2 separate regions of the Homo sapiens genome follow, and region 1 is linked to region 2. Evidence: fine-mapped expression QTL. A gene starts in region 2. The other region holds a variant in brackets. All regions are shown on one strand. Distances are between the middles of the regions. Region 1 overlaps HIF3A (hypoxia inducible factor 3 subunit alpha). Region 2 holds the start of HIF3A (hypoxia inducible factor 3 subunit alpha).

Evidence for each region. PIP is the estimated chance that this variant, and not a neighbour inherited with it, causes the effect. A credible set is the group of variants that fine-mapping cannot tell apart.
Region 1: its variant is the best candidate, but not a certain one, in a credible set for the expression of HIF3A in caudate (GTEx, PIP 0.53).

Annotation. Positions count from the first base shown.
Region 1 is chr19:46,321,199-46,324,104 of GRCh38, forward strand. HIF3A (hypoxia inducible factor 3 subunit alpha) reads left to right here. Exons shown (of 15, transcript NM_152795.4): 10 at 578-768. Among named protein-coding and RNA genes, the nearest start is that of PPP5C, 24 kb to the right of the region's middle. The variant C/T (reference allele first, on the strand shown) is at 1,259.
Region 2 is chr19:46,295,510-46,298,415 of GRCh38, forward strand. It overlaps HIF3A (hypoxia inducible factor 3 subunit alpha), which reads left to right and starts at 1,533. Exons shown (of 15, transcript NM_152795.4): 1 at 1,533-1,593. The coding sequence starts at 1,568.

The sequences.
Region 1 (2,906 bases), 26 kb after region 2:
GCTCCCCAGAGCTGAATGGCCAAATGCTGTTCTGAGCCACCAATCCCTTCCCCTCGGACCTTTCAGAGCCTCACCACAATCTGGCCACTGAAGTTCACACCTGGGCTGGGAGCAGTGGTTTATGCCTGCAATCCCAGCACTTTGGGAGGCCGAGGTGGGCGGATCACTTGAGGTCAGGAGTTTGAGATCAGCCTGGCCAACATGGTGAAACCCTGTCTCTATAAAAAATACAAAACTTAGCTGGGTGTGATGGCGGGCACCTGTAATCCCAGCTACTCTGGAGACTGAGGCAGGAGAATTGCTCGAACCCAGGAGGCAGAGGCTGCAGTGAACTGAGATAGTGCCACTGCACTCCATTCTGGGCAACAGAGCTAGACTCCATCTCAAAAATAAAAATAAAGTTCACACCTGGCCCAGCAGGGGTCCTCCAGGCCCCTTCCTTACCCTCTCACTAAGAACAGTGGCCATCCTGACCTGCTGAAGATGTCAACTGTGTTCCTGGGGTTGGTATGGAGGGCTCTGGCCCTTGGCCCTCAGTCACCAGCCCGTGTCCTCCCCATCTCCATGTGTCCTGCAGACACCCCTGGCCCCCGGATCCTTGCCTTCCTGCACCCGCCTTCCCTGAGCGAGGCTGCCCTGGCCGCTGACCCCCGCCGTTTCTGCAGCCCTGACCTCCGTCGCCTCCTGGGACCCATCCTGGATGGGGCTTCAGTAGCAGCCACTCCCAGCACCCCGCTGGCCACACGGCACCCCCAAAGTCCTCTTTCGGTAAGCCATCCCACCCATGTGAGCCCTCAGCATCCAGTGCTCAGTCCCTCAGGGGGTCTTGGCCTGTGACTTAAACCTGACTGTTCTCTGGGCCTCAGCTTCTCCATCTGTGTAGTGGGGAGGTTGGGATGAGATGGGGTTGAGGTTCCTTTAAGACGCAGATCCAGATTTTTCAATTGTTAGAATTCCAGAGTCTGGCTCTGTTTAGGGAAAAACTCTCTCAAGCTATGTTTTTCCTCTGCTCTCCTAATAATGCAACAATCGTCAACACAGAAGAAGACTTCTGTGACCAAATGTGGGCAGTTTTTCCCACACACCAAGCAGCGGACACCAGCTGGGTGTCCTCCAATTCAATTCCGGCATCATCTACCTGGAGATAGTGTCAGATTTCACAGGTTGGGCCTCAGTCCCCAAGACTGCTCTTTGCTCTTCAGACACCAGTCACAAGTCTGGGCCTCCAGAATTTCTTTTTTATTTTTATTTTTATTTT[C/T]GAGATGGAGTCTCACTCTGTCACCCAGGCTGGAATGCAGTGGCGCAATCTCGGCTCACTGCAACCTCCACCTCCGAGGTTCAAGCAATTCTCTTGCCTCAGCCTCCCAAGTAGCTGAGATTACAGGTGCATGCCACCACACCTGGTTAATTTTTTGTATTTTTAGTAGAGGCAGGGTTTCACCATGTTGGCCAGGCTGGTCTCGAGCTCCTGACATCAAGTGATCTTCCGGCCTCGGCCTCCCAGAGTGCTGGGATTACAGGTGTGAGCCACCGTACCTGGCTCTTTGGGTTTGATTAATTTGCTGGAGCGGCTCACAGTAATCAGGACAACACTTATTTAGGTTTACTGGTTCATTGTCAAGGATATTGCACGGATACGGATGAAGGGATACATTGAGTGAGGTATGGAGGAATGTAGGGTTTCGGAGCTTCCATGCCGTCCCGGGCACCACCCTCCAGAAACCTCCATGGGTCAGCTATCTGGAAGCCCCTCCAACCCAGTCCTCTTGGGTTTTTATGGAAGCTTCATGACATCAGCATTCCTTCCCCCAGGGTATCGGGCAGGACCCTCTCTGGGGACAGTGGTTTTTTTTTTGTTGTTTTTTTTTTGAGACGGAGTTTTGCTCTTATCGCCCAGGCTGGAGTGCAATGGCATGATCTCAGCTCACCACAACCTGCGCCTCCTGGATTCAAGCAATGCTCCTGCCTCAGCCTCCCAAGTAGCTGAGATTACAGGCGCACACTACCACGCCCAGTTAATTTTTTTATTTTTAGTAGAGACGGGGTTTCACCATGTTTGTCAGGCTGGTCTCGAACTCCTGACCTCATGATCCACCCGCCTCGGCCTCCCAAAGTGCTAGGATTACAGGCATGAGCCACCGCGCCCGGCCTCTGGGGACAGTCTTATGACCCACAATCAAAAAGGCAGGGGAAGATTAGAGACCTGCCTTTGGGCAGGTGAAACGAGGGCAGAAGAAGGCTGGAGAGGTTCTGTTTCCTGAGGCCTAACACACCCAGTGTTCTAACAAAAGACTGTTAGAACTGTTTTACTAGACTGTTCTAATAAAAGACTGTTCTAACAAAAGACAACGGCCATGGGAGTTTGACCCAGGAACCATGCACAAAATCATATATATATATGTGTGTATAAAATAACACCACAGGCCCTGTATTAGTCTGTCTTCACGCTGCTGCTAAAGACATACCCAAGTCTGGGTAATTTATAAAGAAAAAAAGATTTAATGGACTCACGGTTCCACATGGCTGGGGAGGCCTCACAATCATGGCGGAAGGTGAAAGATATGTCTTACATGGCGGCAGGCAAGAGAGAACGAAAACCAAGCGAAAGGGGTTTCCCCTTATAAAACCATCAGCTCTCATGAGACTTATTCACTATCACGAGGACAGTATGGGAGAGACCACCCCCATGATTCAATTATCGCTGACCAGGTCCCTCCCACAGTGTGTGGGAATTATGGGACTATAGTTCAAGATGAGATTTGGGTGGGGACGCAGCCAAACCCTATCAGGCCCCTAACCTGGGATGTTTGGAACTGGCACAGATGACCCTCCTCCCACTCCAGCTTGTGACTAAGCATCCAGTTCTCTGAACTTTGACCTCAAAGAGTCAAAGTGTCTAATATCCT
Region 2 (2,906 bases):
CCCATTGTGGGTTTCATTTGAAAAATCCAAGAATTAAACTGGAGTTCAGGTATGGCTGGATCCAGGCACTCAAGTGCTGGTGTCAAAACTGCCTTTCACAATCGTTCATTTCTGCACAATCTCTTTTGCACTGAACCTCATCTCATAAAGCCTCTCCTCTCTTTGTGGCAGTGTGAGCCCCATCTGCTCCATCTGCCCAGCAATTCCAGCAGACATAGAAAATCCTCTTTCCTAATGGTTTCAGCAAATGTCTCAGGGTTGATTCTCATTGGGCTAAATTAGGTAACATGCCTTCCCTGAACCAATCACTGTGGCCAGGGAAGCAGACTCAACTGATTAGCCAGGTTTGGATCCTATGTCCATCCCTGGAGCTGGTGAAGGCAGAGCAGTGGCCAAGCCCTATTCAAATTAAATAGATGAAGAGGACAGAGAAGTGGTTTCCCAAAAGAAAACAGAGTGGGGAACTGGCGTGAGCCGGGGAGCCGTGTGGATTCCTGGAGGAAGAGTGTGCTAAGCTGTGGGAACAGCAAGTGCAAAGGCCCTAAGGTGAGCAACTTGCCTGGCAAGTTCAAGGTTCAACAAGGCCACTTCTGCTGTAGTATCCTCTTCCCTGCCAACCAAATCCAGAATAGTGGTCCAACACACACACACACACACACACACACACACACTCTGTTCCTTATCCAACTGTAATGCTTTCACCCTTGCTTGGTACCTTTGTACTTCTCCCTTCATAGTCGACTAGTTAAAAAAAAATACATTTCTCGGCTCTTTTTTGAAGTAGGTGTGATTGAGTTAAAACATATTTACTTGACATAAGCTTAATTATTCATCAATGGGAACCTGAAAAGGGAGTCAGAGAGGCCAAGAGGTTAGGGTGGAGTAGAGGGGGTAGGGAAGGTAAGCTGGGGTGCAGAGGGTGCAGACTGGAGGAATGGGGGCGAAGTGGGGTATGGGACTGGGGTGGCAGGGAGGGGCTGGGGAGAGAGAGAGAAGGGTAGGTGCCAGAGGGCCAAGGATTGTGGAACTGGGGTGGGGTTGGGAGTTGGGGGGTGGGGAGGAGATGTGGGGTACTCTGTGAATACCTTAGAAGGGATAGAGAAGGCAGGGCTAGGGGTTTGGAAGGGGTGGGATTGGAGGTCAGAGGGGCTCAACTGGGGTTAGGAAATGGAAAGGTGAGAAGAGGTGGGGGTTAGAGGCTGGGGACTGGGGTCCAGAGAGCAGAGTGAACTGAGTGGGTTCAGAAGAGTACTGGCGTTGGCACTTCAGAGGCTGGACTAGAGAAGGCGCGTTCAGCCGACGGTGCGGGATACACTGCCGAGGAAGTCCGCGGCGAGGGGCGTGGTTGGGGGGTGTGTATTACACGGTATCCCCCCCTTGCCTTTCCAAGTCTTTCCCTCTGGTTCCGCCTCCTTTTCAGGAGTGACATACCGTTGCCCAATCAGAGCCTCAGGCCTGGCGTGGCACAGCCAACCGCGCGGCGTGGGGAGGAGCTGGGGAGGGGGCTCGCAAGGCCGGGGAGGGGGCTAGGGGCCTCCGAGGGCTCCGGAGCGGCGACTGGCGAGCCATGGCGCTGGGGCTGCAGCGCGCAAGGTACTGAAGTTCGGGGGCAGGAGTTCTGGGAATTGGGGGGCTCTCCTCCTGGAGACCCCTGAGCTGGATTGTTGGGGGGGGTGGGGTTCGCGGGTGCGAGCCAAGAACGCCCCGGGGCGCGCAGTTGGAGGCACATCCCCACCGCACTCTCCACCCTTAGGGACTGCAGGGGTGGGGGATTCCCTACGTCTCTGGCTGCCCCGCCCCTCTGGCCAAGAGCGGCTTCGGGGTTCCCGATTTCTCGCTACCCAAGGCTCATTTACCCTCCTGGTTGGGGGTGGAACTTGGGATTCCTGATAAATTAGGGGTGATTGCATTTGAGCAGTCCCCAGGCTTCTGCGGGAGATATTCGCCCTCCACATATTGATCCCTCTGGCCTCTGAACCCCCCAAAATTGAGGGTATTCTTTGCCACCAGGTGCCTGGGATCCTAGGTGATATGGGATACCCCTAAATGGAGCCTTCCCACATATAGGGAGTCCCTTGGAATGGCATTCAGCTCCTGAGTTCAAGAGAGGAGAGATCTCCTCTAATAGTATGCTTCCTGACACAGTCTCCTAAACATTGGGTTTCCCTAGAAATGGGCAGAGGGGAGCCCCTTTCAGAAGCCGTCTGGGACCCTTCCCAAGAGACTTTTTGTATCCTTTCAAAAGCCAGAGTCACCCCCTTAAATAACAGGGAAACAAGCTGGACCCACTTCCCAAAGTCCAGCCCCTCATCTCACCCCTGCACCCCCATCCTGAGAGACAGGGGAGCCTCATCCAAGCTTTATTTTGGGGAGACTCCATGGCAGGGTGCTGTGAGCCTGCAGGCTGTGATGGGAACGCCCCCTGCCGCAGTACTCAGATGGGGTCATCCCGGGCAGAGGGTGGGTTTCTGGGTTCACTTGCCCAGCAGGTGCAGCTCTGCTGGAACACAGGGGAACCTGTGCCCTGGGGCCGCTGCCGGGGGGTTTTATCTGGCCATGTTCCCATGGGACCCTGGAAAATGTTCTAGGTCCTCAGCTTTCCCTGTCCAATGTGAGGCACCCAGTAAGCCTCACCCCCTTCCCTCCTCCCTGGCTTCTCAGGCCTGATTGGATCCATGCACACCCCATGTTTCTAACCGCCCCCATCCTCTCCCCTGTCCCCTACTCTATTCCAGGCCCTGGCTCTGGGCCTAACAAGGAACTCTATCCCACCCCTTTTGGGCCAGCTGTCGTTCCGCCCCTCTCAGCGCCCCCTCCTGGCTGGGTGGGGGCCCCTCTTGGCTGAGCTCGGGTGCCCCCCCTCCCCACCCAAGGCCGGCCCTTTCCTGTGGAGTCATCTCACCGCC